3 separate regions of the Homo sapiens genome follow, and regions 1 and 3 are each linked to region 2. Evidence: fine-mapped expression QTL. A gene starts in region 2. Each other region holds a variant in brackets. All regions are shown on one strand. Distances are from middle to middle. Region 1 holds the start of LOC107986292 (a long non-coding RNA gene). Region 2 holds the start of CCNG2 (cyclin G2). Region 3 overlaps CNOT6L (CCR4-NOT transcription complex subunit 6 like).

Region 1 (5,227 bases), 24 kb before region 2:
AATTTGATTACAGCTTCTCTGTTTCAAGACCTGACTTCACTATCCTTGAGGTTTCCCTACACCTCTCTTTTACCTTTGAAAATTGTCCTTTTATTAAACACTCTTTGAATTATCCTAATTTGAGCAAGTCATCTGTTTCCTTGACAACACTGATACAGATGAGAACATCAAAATGGTCCATTTTTGCATCTAAATAGTGCTCCTCAGATTTCCCAGTGTCTAGGGTCCTCACACTAAAGGGACAAGTGCCCAGAATTCCCACTACTACAGCCCAGCAACTCGGTATTCCCCACTCTGTCACTATTGTCCTCACACCATACTTTCTTCAACTATGTTTAAAACTGACCTATTCTGTATCCTTTTTCATGACTCTGTCTTCCAACATGACAACGAGTGAATTTCCTTATGGTTGCTAGTATGTCAATGGAAGAAAGTCGGCACAGTGTTTATCGGTCTTCTATAAACAAATTGCTTCTTTCTAGACAATGCCCACTGGTCCTCATAGTCTATATATTCCATTGCTGTCCTGTGGCCTATAATTAATCATACAGGGCTGATTCTCCTAAAAAGTACAGGCGCTGCTTCATTATTTCACTGCAGAAATTTTTTTTTTAAAGGTGACAAGTTTCAGGCTTTTGATATTTAAAAATTATTGCCAACTAGGATGTACAGCCATAGTTTGTCCTGGGGCTTGAATAAATGCAAACCCTCTTGCTAAGATTGGAACGCACAATCTCGGGAAGGACGCTGAGTGAGTGCACCTTGTCACCCTTTTCAGGCTTCGTCTTTCTCTGGCTTTTCAGGTCTCAAAACTCTTTTCTCAGAATACTCTGTGAATATTGATTTCACAAGGACTGGCTCACTCTAACCAAAGTATTAAGAAATTCACATGTAAAGTAGAATGCCAACTTACTCATTTATAATGAGACCTATTATATGGGAACTTGCTTGTGGGTGAATTACATATATTCTTTAAGTACATATATACTTTAAGTTACTTCAACCAGGCAATAAATGTATTATCAGTTAGCTGCAAGTAACAAAAACCAAAACAATAGATTAAACCATAAGAACATTTGTTAATAACATATTGTTTATTTACCAGGAAGAGAGCAGTCTCATTAATGTCATCAAGGAACTATATCCTTCAGCACATTTGCTTATGGCCTCTTGGTTGCAAGATGGCTGCCCCTCCAGGTATCAAGACGGCATTCAAAATTAGAAAACAAATAGCCGGTGCACGTATGTGTGTGCGTGCTTTCTTCGCATAAGGCTTTGTCTTTTTATCCAGTTAGCTTCTCAGAAGCCCCACTAGCCAGAACTGTGTCACATAGTCATTCCAATTGTCAGGGAGGCTGGGAAAGCAGGTATCAAACTCTCTGGCCACTATTCTATAGTGAAAGCCAGCATGGAATAAGAGATTTGGATCGCATGGCAGCTGTGGAGGTGTGCTGCGAAGATCTCCCTTTAAGAGAGAACTCACTGTTGCCTCTAGCTGCAGCATCTTCAACATATGCCATGTGTTTGAGCTGAGGCCCATCTCTTCCTGGGTAGCCCCCAGCCAATACCGTACAAGCTGGGAGTGCTCGGGTGTGGCCCTGTCTGCCCAGCATGGGACTCTTCTAATGGGGACTCTTTGTTCCAGAACTCCCTATTGCATAGGCAGAGATTTATGCAGATCCACACCATGGTCTGAAGCTCCCCTTGCCCAATTCTGCCTCTCTTTCTTTCCTTTCACAGGTGTCTAATCTGCATGGAGGTGTGAAGACTTTCATTGCCCAGTCCTGTTTCCTCTCCCTTCTGTCATGGCCATTAGCCCCCAATAAATTTATTGTACTCCTAATTCCATCTTAGCATCTGCTTCCTAGAGGAGCTGAACTGACAGCAAAGGGCAACATCAACATGTTAGTTACCTGTAACAAAGAAATCAGACATTACCCGTGCTAGGAGAATATAGGATCAGAAAGTCAGGTGCAGGCCTTCTGACTCTATATAGCATGAGTATTGTTTGATTACAAGCTTATGCTTGTAATCCCAGCGCAAACTGGCATTTAGGAGGCAGAGGTGAGAGGATCACTTGAAGCCAGAGTGTGAGACCATCCTGGGCAAAATAATGAGATCCTATCCCTGCAAAAAATTGCTAAAAAAGAAAAATTAGCCAGTCATAGTGGTGCTCCATGCCTGTAGTCCCAGCACTTGGGAGGCTGAGGCAGGAGGGTCACTTTAGCCCAGGAGGTCAGAGCTGCTGTGAACTGTGATTGTGCCACTGCACTCCAGCCTGGGCAACAGAGCAAGACCCTGTCTCAAAAAATAAAAACAAAACAAAACAGAAATATAGGATCAGAACAAGCTAGGGTACTCTAAGTAGTCCGGTCTCACCATAAGGGTGTTCCTAATTTGGTCTCTCTTCTCTCTTATTTCAGAAAGGACATCCAGGCCCCCAGCCTCACACTTGTGCACACTGGCAAAGTCGGTCTTGGATTCTCTGACTCGTTTTTCTGTTCCTGGTCAAATCATTCTCATTCTGTTGGCCTGCGCTTTCTTAGCCATGTTGATTCCACAGAGTACACTAGAACCAAGCCCTGTTTTTCCCACCTTGGGGCCCAGAAGACATTCTGTTCCCTTTTTTGGTCGGTTGTTTGCTTGTTTTGTTTTGCTTTAAGGAGAATTCTCCAAATATCTGCTTTGTTCCATTGTGTATTGACTTTATAATTCCAATTCTCAGAGTTCTAAAGAAGCATCACTGACACCCCTTTCCATTCTATACTGTCCTTTAAAATAGCATCCATTCTAGAGCATAATTTCCTGCGGGGAACCCTTCAGTAGCTTCATGTGTTTGTTAATTCCACCTTCATTTATTGAGCATCTACTCTGTGATGAGCTCTTTTCTAGGAGCTGGCCATAGCAACAATGAAGAAGAAGCTCACAGCTGGTTTTAAGTTAAGTAAAACTATTATTAAAAGGCAGAAGAGGGCTGGGTGCAGTGGCTCACACCTGTAATCCTAGCACTTTGGGAGGCCGAGGTGGGAGGATCATGAGGTCAGGAGTTCAAGACCAGCCTGGCCAACATGGTGAAACCCAGTCTCTAATAAAAATACAAAAAAAAAAAAA[T/AAT]TAGCTGGGCATCATGGAGCATGCCTGTAATCCCAGCTACTCAGGAGGCTGAGGCAGGAGAATTGCTTGAACTGGGACCTGGGAGGCAGAGGTTGCAGTGAGTCAAGATCGTGCTACTGCACTGCAGTCTGAGCTACAGAGCGAGACTCCACCTCAAAAAAAAAAAAAAAAGGCAGAAGACGCCAGGTGTGGTGGCTCACACTTATAATCCCAGCACTTTGGGAGGCCGAGGTGAGGGGATCACCTGAGGTCAGGAGTTCGAGACCAGCCAGACCAACATGGTGAAACCCTATCTCTGCTAAATCCCAGCTACTCTGGAGGCTGAGGCAGGAGAACTGCTTGAACCTGGGAGGCGGAGATTGCAGTGAGCCAAGATCATGCCATTGCACAACAGCCTGGGTAGCAAGAGTGAAACTCAATATAAAAAAAAAAAAAAGAAAAAAAGGCAGAAGAGATAGATTCAAGCCAAAAGAGGAGTTCTTCACTCATCAGACCCTTTCTCTAACCTAAATATTTTAAGCTTTCCATCCTCCAAGAGATGAAACTGCAGAGATTGTCAGAACAGCATAGACTCTCTACAGGCATGCACTGGATATTAAATATGGGTGTGGCTTATTGTCTGCCAATTTATGCTGCTTGTCACTGTCTGGTGCCACCCTCAGATCTCCACTACTGATAGCTGCCTGCCTAAGATGGCCTCTCTCACCAGAGCTTGAAAAATGATGGAGCTGCCCAAATGGTGGTTCTTTCTACACCTGCTATACTTGCAGCACATTCCCAGGTACATTTGCCTTACAGTCTTCATCCTTGTCTTGGTTTCAGAATATATTTGTGCTGAATGTTCTTATTCCCATTAATTAATGCCCATCATTCCATTTTGCCACCGTAATTATTTATATAATCATTATCAGTTCTGTCCTTCTAAAGTAAAAATTAACACAGCTCAAGACAGACTTGACTGGATCACAGTCTGGATTGTAATCTAAAACATTATACCTAGAAATAATGACAGCCCTCTAGTCTGGGAATTCAGTCTAGTCTGGTCTTTCCCAAAAGACAAGAGTCTTGGGTGCTTCGGCAAAGCTATAGTGGACCTCAGAAAGTCACCTAGGTCACCTAGCCCAAACTCCTCATTTCATAAAGAACAGAATGGGGGCCGGGCATAGTGGCTCAGCCTGTAATCCCAGCACTTTGGAAGGCCGAGGCGGGCAAATCACCTGAATTCGAGACCAGCCTGACCAACACGGCGAAACCCCGTCTCTACTAAAAATACAAACATTAGCCAGGCTTGGTGGTGCACACCTGTAATCCCAGCTACTCCGGAGGCTGAGGCATGAGAATCGCTTGAACCTGGTAGGTGGAGGTTGGAATGAGCTGAGATCGGGCCACTGCACTCCAGCCTGGGCAACAGAGCTAGACTCCATAAAAAAAAAGAAAGAAAGAAAGAAAGAAAAAACAACAAAATTAACTCCAGATCAGTTAAGTTACTTGCCTAGGTCAGACAGCTGTGGACAAATCTGGGACTAAAACCCGAAAGCCCTCCTCCTGCCCAGGCTCTTTCCAACAGCTGTCCTACACAGAACTCGCCTGGACTCACTGGCTCCCACAGCTAATCCTCCCTCCATGTTTTAATCCCCACTGTGTTCTCTTTCTTTCATCTCATGTCACCTGCAGCTTCCTTTCTTTCCCTCTTCCTTCTCCTTCCACAGGATTTTTTACATTCCTGTCAGTCCTGTGTTGCTCCCTGTATGCAGAGCCTATGTTTTTTCTCTTTGCTACTAGTTACTAGTAGCAAAACTAAAAGAAGAAAACTAGTATGCATGTCTATCTTTGTATCTTCTACATTCAGTGCTTTTAAAAAATGCTTAATGTTTATGGAAATTCTGAACTATATTTAAAATTATAATTCTACAAATATACTATAAAGTCTACTGGGAAAATAATACTACCCAATTCCCAATACTAAATGCTTAATACTAAAGTACTTCTAGGATAGCAGAGTCGTTTTTGGAATGATTGCATCAGAGCTCTCAGGATCAAGAAAAGATATACAGTTTTTATACAGGAATTCTAGTCTCATGTAATATAATCAAACCAAAATGTAAAGGATGATATT
Region 2 (5,227 bases):
AATCTTATATTGAGGACTATAAATATATGGCAAATACCTAAAAAATAGTAGTCTCTCTTTTGTCACATATTCAAGAGAAAGTACTTAAGAGGTAAAACCTAAGACACAACAGAAAAACCTAAGATACAACAATACAATTAATCTTGTAGTCTTATTCTGGCACTAACGATCACAATTCTGATTATAAATTTTTATGTACAGTGGACGTTATTATACCCATTCGATAAATATTTCTTGAACCCTGTGTGCTAGGCACTGGGCATAGAAAAAGGAAGACATATTTATAAAAATGATGAAATACCTTCATAAGAGCCAAGAACCTGTCCAAAATATTGACAGCCAGGACAAAAGTTTCAGTGCAAGATCCAAAAAAGTTGGCTAAACTCCTTAAATCTTCAACTTTGGCATTTCTCAATCCTGGACACAAAGTGTTATCATTCTGCAATAAAAACCAAGAACCAAGGTTTACAATTTTCTTAGAACCAGATGAAAAACACATACAGGTCCAAAGAATAAGGTTAATTTTTTCCCAAGAATAAGGTTAATTTTTTTCCCTCAATCTTCAAGAATATAGGTGGAAAGAGTGGTATCGCTTAACTAAAGCTATACACTTTATCATCTGTAAGACGTAAATCACTGCTTCTTAAAAATACGCATCATAAAAGAGCTTCAGCAATTCAATATAAGGTGAACTGTTGCAAGATTTCAGAGAGTTATAGCAAATATAATTCAATTCCCTTGGAATGGAGAGAAAGGGTTCTTTTGTTTGCTTTTCTAAAGTCATTTAAGATTCTACTATAAATATGTATTTCACAGGCAGAGGGTGTTTGCACAAATGAACTACTCAATTCACCCGGGGTCTCCCATCCTGAAGCTGCAGGCTGGAGTATGGGGGGCAGCGAGGAGGGTGCCACATTAAAAACAACAACAAAAAACCCCACTTCTCTAAAGTATCACTCTCATTCTTGCTAAGAAACAAAAGCATTAACCTGTAATAAGGTTTATCTTGGTACTCCAGAAAGAACAACTTTTAAGAAATTTTGCAGGCTTTAGTCATGATTCAACGGGGGCGGGGGGGTTACCTCCTCCAAGCCCCATCAGCTGCTTGAGCAAGTTATCTTTTCTGCCAACTTACCTCCGGGGTAGCCTCAATCAAACTCAGCCCTTTTTCTCGAGGTTGGAATCTCTCTTCTTGTTCCAGGTAGACGTTCAACAACCCGAGAAGTTGGACCCCTTCATGACCTGCCAAGTGCTCTGCCCCCAAATCCTTCATCTGCAGTAAAGACACCACACAGAGAATGTAATCTGGGGGTAAGAGGGGTGGGGAAGCGGGAGAAAGGGCTGAGGCCAGTACCTCCAGCAAGGGTCGCCCCAGCACACCCCGACAAGGAGCGGGTGAAGGGACCAGTCACGTCCGCCAGAGCCCCAGGGCAATCCCCACCACGGCCAGGGAGGTGTGGCAGGGGGAGGAGCCGTGGTCAGGTCCGCCGGCCAGCGCTGGGTAAGACCGGCCAGCCCTGGCCTCTTGGCGTTTCACAAACAGGAAACTGTCCGCGGGCGCCGGCGTCCCCTCGGTCTGCCCCACCTGAAGTCGCGCCAGGGAGGGCCTTCTGCCCAGGGGACTGCAGTGTGGCGAGCGACTGCAGCGGGTCCCGGGGATGGGGTGTTGCACAATAGGGGGGAGGGGAGGGAGAGTCTCGCGACTGAACAAAGAAGCGGAGGGAGGAGACTCCCGAGCCCCGCCCGCCCGGGGCGCCCAGCTGCAGAAGCCCCTCTCGGAGAGTCCCGCCCCCAGCTTTTCCCGTCCGCTGCTGCAGCGCCGATTCCGGACTTACCCGAGAGGCGGATACCCCCGTCCCAGGAGCCCTGGGGTGGCGCGGCACACCCGGCTACGGTCCGGGGAGAGAAGTCCAGTCCAGCCCGCCCGCCCCGCGCCCGTAGGGACAACACCCGTCCACCCACTGATGCCGGGGCCCCACAACTCTGCAGAGCCCCGGGGCTGTCAATTCGAGAAGCACCACGCCAGCAAGTCCCCGTGACAACACGAGCGGGGGCGGGGGGCACCGAGGCGGAGACTGCCCTTAACCTAGTCGCAACCTCCTTCCACCCCACGAGCATCTATCTGTCCATCGCGGGCGCCAGCTCCCCCCGGGGCTGGGGCTGAGGGCAGCACCCTGGTCGCTCCAGCGGATGAGGAGCAGGCAGCACCGAGGCACTCGCATGGTACCAACCTCCTCAAAGCCCACAGTCCCCACCACGAACAAAGAAACCCACGGCGGCCCTGGGCGGGTCCACTCACCGTGCCGGAGACGCGCCTCCACCCGCCCGCGGCCTCGCGGTCCGCACGGACTGGGCGCAGCGGGGGCTTCCAAACCTGTCTCGCAGGTCGGGGACCCACCGCCTCAGCGGTGCCCCCGGTCCGGCATCCGACCCTTCCTCCCAGGCACCGCCGCCTCGGCCTCACAGCCCCGGCTCCATCCCGCTCCCCGCGCGCCCACCCTCCGCCGCGGCGCAACGCCGGCCGCGGAAGACCAGCCCACCGCCGCACCCCCGCCGCCTCAGCGGAAACCTCCCCGAGCCCCTTGTTTTTGTTAAGAGTTTCGACGCCCCCAAGGGGGCGGGGCACGTGACTCCCCGCGGAGGGATCCTGCACTTCCTCCACGGACTTTAAAAAAGAGTCCCGCCCCTAAGCTGCCGTCTCGAGCCTCTCTCGCGGCCTCCCTAGCTCTCCTTGGCTTTGCCGAGCCAGTCCTCCCGCCTGGCGCTAGGGCGGAGAGCGGAATCTGGGCGTCGGGCTTATTCCGCGATTGATCTGCGTTGGGGAACGGGGGAAGACAGAGGGGCGGAAGGAGATCGTTTCTGGTCTCATTACGCCTTTTAAAGGTCCCCGATTTGTTTTGTTTTCGCTGTTTTGAAAAGTCCGCCCAAAGTAGCCGGCTCTCTGATTGGATGCGGGTGGGGCGATGGGCATGCTGAGGACCTGATTCACCCTCGAATCTGGATTGGCTAACTTATCAGTCTTGGAGCCCTCTGATTGGCTTTCTCCGTAGCCTGAGCCTCTCTCTGCCTTGGGGCCTTAGCAACTCCAGGGTCTGGATTGCGCATGCCTGGGTGTGCAGCGGAGAAGGTATTCAGTTACCTGCCCTGCGGGGCTGTGCCTTCTCGCCTGGCTGCCTCCGCCTTTCTTGGGGGAATGTCACGCTCGCGGCGCTTCTCCTAACAGCTAACCTTTGTGACAGCCTTTTCAGCCACGGGAGAGTTTTCTACATTCCTTCTTTATTTTGTCTTGGCGTTCCATTTTGCAATAACCCACCAAATTATTATAACATTGTCGGGGCGTTTACTAAAATATTCAATAAATGCTACAAGTTTGGGTATTTGCTTTAAAATTTTACAGTCCAAGAGAAAAAAAAATGGAGAAGAGAGGTGAAATAAGATAGGCAAAAAGTTGAGGGTCGAAGCTGGGTGATGGGTACTCGAGGCTGCATTACAGTATTCTTTCTAGTTCTGTGTCTTGGAATTTTTCCATAATTTAAAAAAATTCAGGAGGGACTGAAGGAGGGGCTTTTCAATAAAAACTTAGCACGCTGATGAGGGTACGTAAACATCTAATAATTACGGCGTACCTCCAGAGGTTGTAGTGCTGTTGTTTTAATGAAGACTCCCAGAGCTTCTTGGTCCTTGGTAACCCATAAATTATCATTTATTGTTCATTATAATTAGCGTTGTTATTATAGGCGACACGTCTCCCAGGACGGGACAAAAAGCAAACAAACCAGGTGCCTTAGGCCAGAGACACTTTCACACGGAATATCAATGGGGCATGTGGTTGACTGCCCTGGAACATTTATTTGTTTACTCTCTCCCTCCTAAATTAGAAAATACCATATTCGTGAGTTCTAATCTACATAATCAGATAGTCCCTGGGAAGAGATTTCTCCTTTCTGTTCTTCTATGTGTTTTCTGTGAATTATTTTGTTACTTGTGAAATATGGGAAGGCACACAACATAGCTTTGGCAGCGCTCTTCTTTGCGGAGCAGCTAAGGAATTTTAAAACTAGGTCCCTTTGCATATTAGCTCGGACTAAACACAGGCATCTGTTTGGAGCACAGAGCAACTGGGGGAAGGCAGCCCAAAAAGCTAACACTTATTTCAGAGAGGTGTGAGCTTGGTGAGGGTTTTGGAAAATAAGATAAAATTAGCACACCAGTTTTAAATGATTTACAGGCTACATAATTTTATCCAATGCTTGTTTTATCTTTTAAACATTAAGTGATAACTTTTATTTGACATAATCATCTTGCTGGAAATCTATGCTGATAAACATAATAGGAGCATGAAACTAACTTAGAGACTAGAGCTAAGATTAAAATTACAGAGATGACAGCTCATTGTACAGAGCATCAATAGGCTGAGTGGACAGGGCCCACAGACAGAAAGCAGCTCGACCAACTATCCACCATCAGAGAAATGAAGAGTTTGTGATCAAAGCATGAAGGAGACTGGGGATGTTTTTTTCAAGTAAGAAGGCAAAGGTAAAAAAGGAACATACGTTATTTTATAAGTGATGTGAAAGAGGAAATGCAAATTTATGTGGTAGAAGACTTTAAAAATAACAGACTATATAAAACAAAAAGGAAAAGATTTAGAAATTGTCCTTTGCTTAGGCTACATAATTTTATCCAATGCTTATCTGATCTTTTAAACATAAATAAGTGATAACTTTTATTTGACATAATCATCTTGCTGCTTAGCACTAAATGATATGAAGCTATACTAAATGTGTACTCTATATTTCATAACTGGTATTTTATGTGTCCTTTTACAGACAGCCTCTTGAATGATGTGAACAGTGATGGCTTTCTCTGAGAGTAAGACAAGAAAGCTTTGTAAATGGCGTTGAATTTCCTGCTCTTGGCAGGCCCTGCTCAGCACAGAAGAAAAGACTGATCAAGTTGTCCAAGATGGAGCCCTTTATCCACGTTAGTCCACTTATCTCTTTAAGATTAAAGGAAAGCAATCATTAAAAATACAGATCCAGTAATTATTAATACAGCATCCTCTTTTTTAAACACCTCATTTTAAGAATGATGATATTCTTAGGAAATGGGCTGGGGGATTATGTAGGTTTTCTCTGTTTACTTTGCAGAATTTTTTGTTTGTTAATATATCTTTTAAAAAAAAATTCTCCTCATTCTATTTGTCCTTATCACATTGGCTTACCTT
Region 3 (5,227 bases), 560 kb before region 2:
AAGGCTCATATCACTTGATTCTATGGTAGATTATATTAGAATTGAGGATGTGGCACATTAAAACTGGAACATGGGCAAATATAGTGTTCCATTTTAAAATTCTAAGTTTATATTGTTAAATGGGTGAAAATTTAAGTTTATATTTGCATTTCCAAGCGTTTCTAAAAATCACTAATGCCATCTATACTTTTAGTATGAAACAGCAGACTATAGAAAGCACAGGGAAGAATAGGCTAAATACATTCTTTGAAGAACCAGAGGCATATAACCACATCATTATGTCATTCCTAATACATGGCTAGATTTTCTAATGATAAAATTGACTGTGTCCCAATGCTTATTTGATTCTAAGCTTTTTTATTCTGTTTCTGAGATATTTTAATAGCTTTGCAAAATATGCTGACCAGTTTTTGGAAAATAATGGTTTTTATAGCAAGCAAAGACTTTATGGCACATTTTCAAAATAGCACTCATACATACTTACATTTTGACAGAAATGTGAATTCTCACATTGATGAGATATTCTTTTTCCCACCTGCCCTACCCTTTAAAAAAGGTCACTTTTCTAATGTGTAGTAGATTCATTTACGCCTTTCCCTTTGAGTCATACCATGTTTGGAGAACTGTGTGAATTGTAGGTAGAGAAATTAACTAGGGAAGCCAGAAGCTTGAACTAAAGTTTTAAATTTGTAGGCAGATGAGAACTTTTATACTATGGTTGCTTTGGGCGATTCTAATTTTGTAATAGCATCATGATCACCAAAATTAATTCAAACATTTTAGTACATCTTTAATCTGTCTTATTTACCAAAGTTCTAATCTGTTTAAGAACAGGATGCCAAGAGCATCTTTCATTTTATAGAATGATATGCTCACCTTTATAAGTGTCACCTAAAAGCTTGAGGGTAAAAAAGAAGCAGCCCATATATCTAAACTACAGGATGTCTTGAACAAGATTCACAGAAAGAAAGAAAAAAAAGCAGTTCTTTCCAGGAAGGTGGTAAGGAAGAGCATGCATATTTCTTGTTTTAACCAAATACCTTTTTTATGTAAATGTCTCTATTAAACCCCAGGTCCTACACCAGGAAATAGGGTGATAACCAGGAAAATACCAAGCTTTAACCCAGTTGGCAGTTCCTTGTGGCATACATTTGGTTAGACTTGGGTTTTTCCTGGAACCAAAGGAAAATAAGCATGTTGAGTTCTTCGTTCAACAGACATGACATTGAAGTAATAGAATATTTTTTAAGTAAAATAGTTTTCACTTTCAAAGCCTATGACATAAGGACATTTGTGCTTATTAATTGTTAATTTTTTTTTATGGTACATTGTATAAACTGAGTAGCATTGAACTGCATTTTAGAAGTATGTCATCAGAAACAAATCACATTATGGAAAGGATATACAAATGCCAAGTGATATGACTCTTTTGGCATGGTGGTAGCATGGTCCATTCAGCTTTCAGAATCTTTCGGAGGCTCTAGTTTGGTGCCTAGTACTAGTTATTTTTGTTAGAACAATCTCTCAAAATTTAGATAATTTTCCAGTTGTATGTCTGTCACTTTTAACTCTAAAGCGTAAGAATCATGGTAACCCTCTCAGAAGTGGTCCTTTCTTGCTCATTTCAGTTTCGTATTAACTTCAAATCACTGATGTATTGTCTTTCAAGCTATCAATTGTTATATGTACCAATTTAATTTAGTTTGTAGTTATCTGAAGTCACAAAATTGGTTCAGCATTGATGTCAAACAATGGCTTTGCTTCTTACCAAACAGACTTAGTATCCTGCTGCTTGTTTCAATCTTGATGCAGTAAGTGATGCAGTATCTGGGTCTGTATTTACTTAGAAACTGTACTGTCCTTTCTCTGTGCTTAACTTGCTAAAAATATATTCCCTTACCTGTGAAATTCCTGAGCGGTGCTCTGCCAACTTTTCAAGGGGAGGGATTTGGATGGCTGTGTTACTGCACACTGGATCTGGAATTGTTCAGGGTTATGAGTGACAAATTTCTTAAACACCAGCAGCACTGAGATGTGCACTATGGGCATTCGTACAGTTGTTGTCCAAATGCAAACAACTTTTTCATCTTGGAGAAGCTGAGATACAGAGTTCAATAGAACTACTTGGAATATTTTGAGAAGGTTGAATGTTTCATCTTTGGCTTTGTTGTCTCTGGAGTGGGGAAGTATGGAGGGCTTTTTTTTTTTTTTTTTTTTTTTTTTTTTTTTTTTTTAAAGAGAGTGTGTATGTACTTTTTCTCTCTATAAGGGCCAGGGTGTTGGTCAAATTCACCATCGATTAATTTATATCT[T/ATCTT]CTGTTGTGATTTTTTTCAACTATATAACAAGTGCCAACTAATTGTCCATGGGACAATCTACTTTTCCACTCAATTTATCGTTTTGAGTAGGGAAAGGTTCATTTATTTTCATTACCTGGCATTAAGTTAAAGAATTCATTATTTTGCATACATTTGAGTCATTCTGTGACCTATAAAGTGTTTTTGTAACTATCTAATTCTAATGGTTGCAAAGCAAAGCACATGACTGTAAAACCAAGCAAGGTGTTTTAGTAACTTTTTCCCTGAATACTTGGTAGTTTCCATTGATACTATTCCAAAACAAATTCTGCTGTTTTAGGTTGTATATTTACTTTGCTTTTGTTCTAAGAAAAAGCCAAGGACTAAATCAACTTGTTTTTGTGTTTCAGTAATCAGTTTAAAATCTAAGATTTTTTTTTAAATTAGACTATTTAATGAAGTGCCATGTAATTGTAGCTTGCTAGTGTTTAATGTTTAATAGACTGGTTCTGTAGGTGTTTTAACCATTTAACACTCTCTGCCATCCCTGGAGAAAGTGGTTCTACTCTTACTGAACACATTCTCTCTGACAAAATCACCAGCTGCTTTATTTTTCTATTTATTACAGTTAAACAGTTGATGAGGTCTGAATCTTGACCAAAACTGCTCAGCTGAGATGTTTTTCACAATAGACACTGTACAAAGTGTGCGTGCAAAAGGACACGGTTGGTAGTATTTTTTCATTAATGTGAACATTGACTAAAAAAAAGCAGTCCTGCCTTTTAAATCTTGTGGCAGCTCAGAAGGGAGGTGCTTAAGAACCTTAACTACTATGTCAGATAACAAAATATTTTTTTCCATTTTGGAGATTGGTTACTGCTCACACATGATGTATAGGGCTAAATATATGCTTGTTTCCTTGCACCTGTGTACTTCCCCTCTCTCCCTCCCTTTCCTTCCCCTGTAGGCAATAAATGGCCATTTTGCAACTGCATACCTTTGTCTTGGTTTTTGACTCTTTATTTGTGCAGTATAAACCTCTGCTTTTAGGTTGATACGTCTCTTCTAAAGTGAAGTAGGGAGCCAAGATAATTCAGGGCAAAATACATAATTACAAATTCATGCTACATTTTTTTTTCTGGTGAAAACTACATTACTAAGTACATTGTTTAAAAAAAATTCTGAAGCTAGTTATATGACTTGCTTTGCCCGAAGAAACCAGTGCAAAGGGATATATGTCACTTCTGAGTGGAACTTTAAGGGCCAGTCTTTAATTTGCCATATTTCCTTTTCTTGCCTGTGTGATCATAGAAGTATATGTTGAGATGAAACCTCTCATTCCAGATCCTTAAGTGACTTTGTTGAAGAGAACTCCCCTGCTGTCCTTTGGGCATGTAGCGTAATAAACAACTGCTAAATCTCAGTGTGTTAATACAATAAAGTTGTGTTATTAGGGCTTAATTTAGTTGATCCTGACTGACAGACAACCACCAGACAGATTTGCTGAGTTATCAATATTGAAGAAACTCAACAGCTGGACCTGCTAAGATCTCAAGTAAATTCATTCAACAAACATTCAGGTATCTTCTGTGAACAAGGTGCTGTGGGCATATTAAGATGAAAGACATCTTTATAATGCCTATCCTCCAAGAATTCATATTCCAAATACTCCTTATGACACAGAAGATATTCCAGTGTTTCAGTCAAAGTAAAGATATCTTAAATCATAGAATCTTGGAAAGAGAGAGAGAGAAGGCACATAGTGAAATAATTAGGAATTCTGCAAACTGTGCTTACAGATATTCAGCTGAAAAATGACTTTAAAATAAGGTGATAGAGAACAGATTATTTTTAGTGAAACAGAAAACAGCTGTGCGGCTTAGTAAGCGCTTGGAAAAGATAATGGTAGATTATTTTGGAACAGATTGTCAACATTGACAGTTCAGTGCCTATTGACTTGTTTTTACCAAGGATCCAGTGTGAGAAGGCTGTCACTGACCCTGAGGACCTTGTCTTCACAGAAGCCTTTGTGTTGGCCAGCCTTTAGGAAGTCCTCCAAAAGTGGAATCACTCTCATGTGAAGTGAATCTTGAAGTTGTCCAGATTTCAAGACACCTGCCTTGTTAAGAGACCTTTGTGATGAGGCATTGAAGACACTCACCAAGTGTCCTTTCATTTCACCATCTGGCCTTGGGCAAAATGTAGGCTCAATGGTAAAGTGGAGATGAACTAAATCTCACGAAATCGGTCTCCGAAAAGCAGAAACCAAGACAAGGGTTTGCATGGAGGTAGTTTCTTTGGGTAATTGATCTCAAGAATGAATGGAAGACAAAGAAGAATGAAATAGGGAAGGAGGGAAAGCCAAGTCAGGGATGCGTTACAGAGCTGATCACTTCTGTGGGCAACTGGGGAATAAACATGCCAAGGACCCTCTGTGGAGCTGAATAGAAGGCACCTGAAAATTATCTTCATGAGGAATGGGATGAGGCAAAGTTTACTCCATGGGTGTTAATTCCTTTTCCCATCCATGTTTGTGCCTGTATCAAATTCACTTAGCAAATTCCTGCAGGTGTCCCATATAGTGATAATGGAGAAATGGGATGAGGGGGTGGGTGGTGCAAAAAGCAAGAAATATTTGGTGTGGCTCAGGCAAAGTGTATCAAGTTACACCAGTGTGCATCTGGTTGCCAAGGTAATAGAATAAGGAAGTGAGCTGAGAGGTGTGAAGTGAACATAAGAGGGGTCCACTACAGTGTAACCACTTGTACCACCAAGTTCTGTTTGGGCCCAGGGTCAAGTTCATTTCATTGTAGCCTACGTTGTGGCAGGCTGTAATCTCAATAAAAAAATAGATGAGGAGTAGTGGGACAAAGAATATGGTCCCTTGCTGCAGCTGGTTCTGAGGCTGTGATTAATATTTATCTTCCCTATTCTA

Evidence for each region. PIP is the estimated chance that this variant, and not a neighbour inherited with it, causes the effect. A credible set is the group of variants that fine-mapping cannot tell apart.
Region 1: its variant is the best candidate, but not a certain one, in a credible set for the expression of CCNG2 in whole blood (INTERVAL, PIP 0.51).
Region 3: its variant is the best candidate, but not a certain one, in a credible set for the expression of CCNG2 in whole blood (INTERVAL, PIP 0.58).

The regions. Positions count from the first base shown.
Region 1 is chr4:77,178,253-77,183,479 of GRCh38, reverse strand. It overlaps LOC107986292 (a long non-coding RNA gene), which reads right to left and starts at 4,447. Exons shown (of 4, transcript XR_001741742.1): 1 at 4,414-4,447. The variant T/AAT (reference allele first, on the strand shown) is at 3,112.
Region 2 is chr4:77,154,579-77,159,805 of GRCh38, reverse strand. CCNG2 (cyclin G2) reads right to left here and starts at 2,599. Exons shown (of 8, transcript NM_004354.3): 1 at 2,300-2,599; 2 at 1,136-1,273; 3 at 302-439. The coding sequence starts at 1,273. It overlaps LOC101928864 (a long non-coding RNA gene), which reads left to right and starts at 1,742. Exons shown (of 2, transcript XR_244659.5): 1 at 1,742-4,536; 2 at 4,830-5,052. RefSeq lists silencers at 2,291-2,400, 2,431-2,500, 2,921-3,040.
Region 3 is chr4:77,711,446-77,716,672 of GRCh38, reverse strand. CNOT6L (CCR4-NOT transcription complex subunit 6 like) reads left to right here. Exons shown (of 12, transcript NM_144571.3): 12 at 1-3,286. Among named protein-coding and RNA genes, the nearest start is that of CNOT6L, 110 kb to the left of the region's middle. The variant T/ATCTT (reference allele first, on the strand shown) is at 2,313.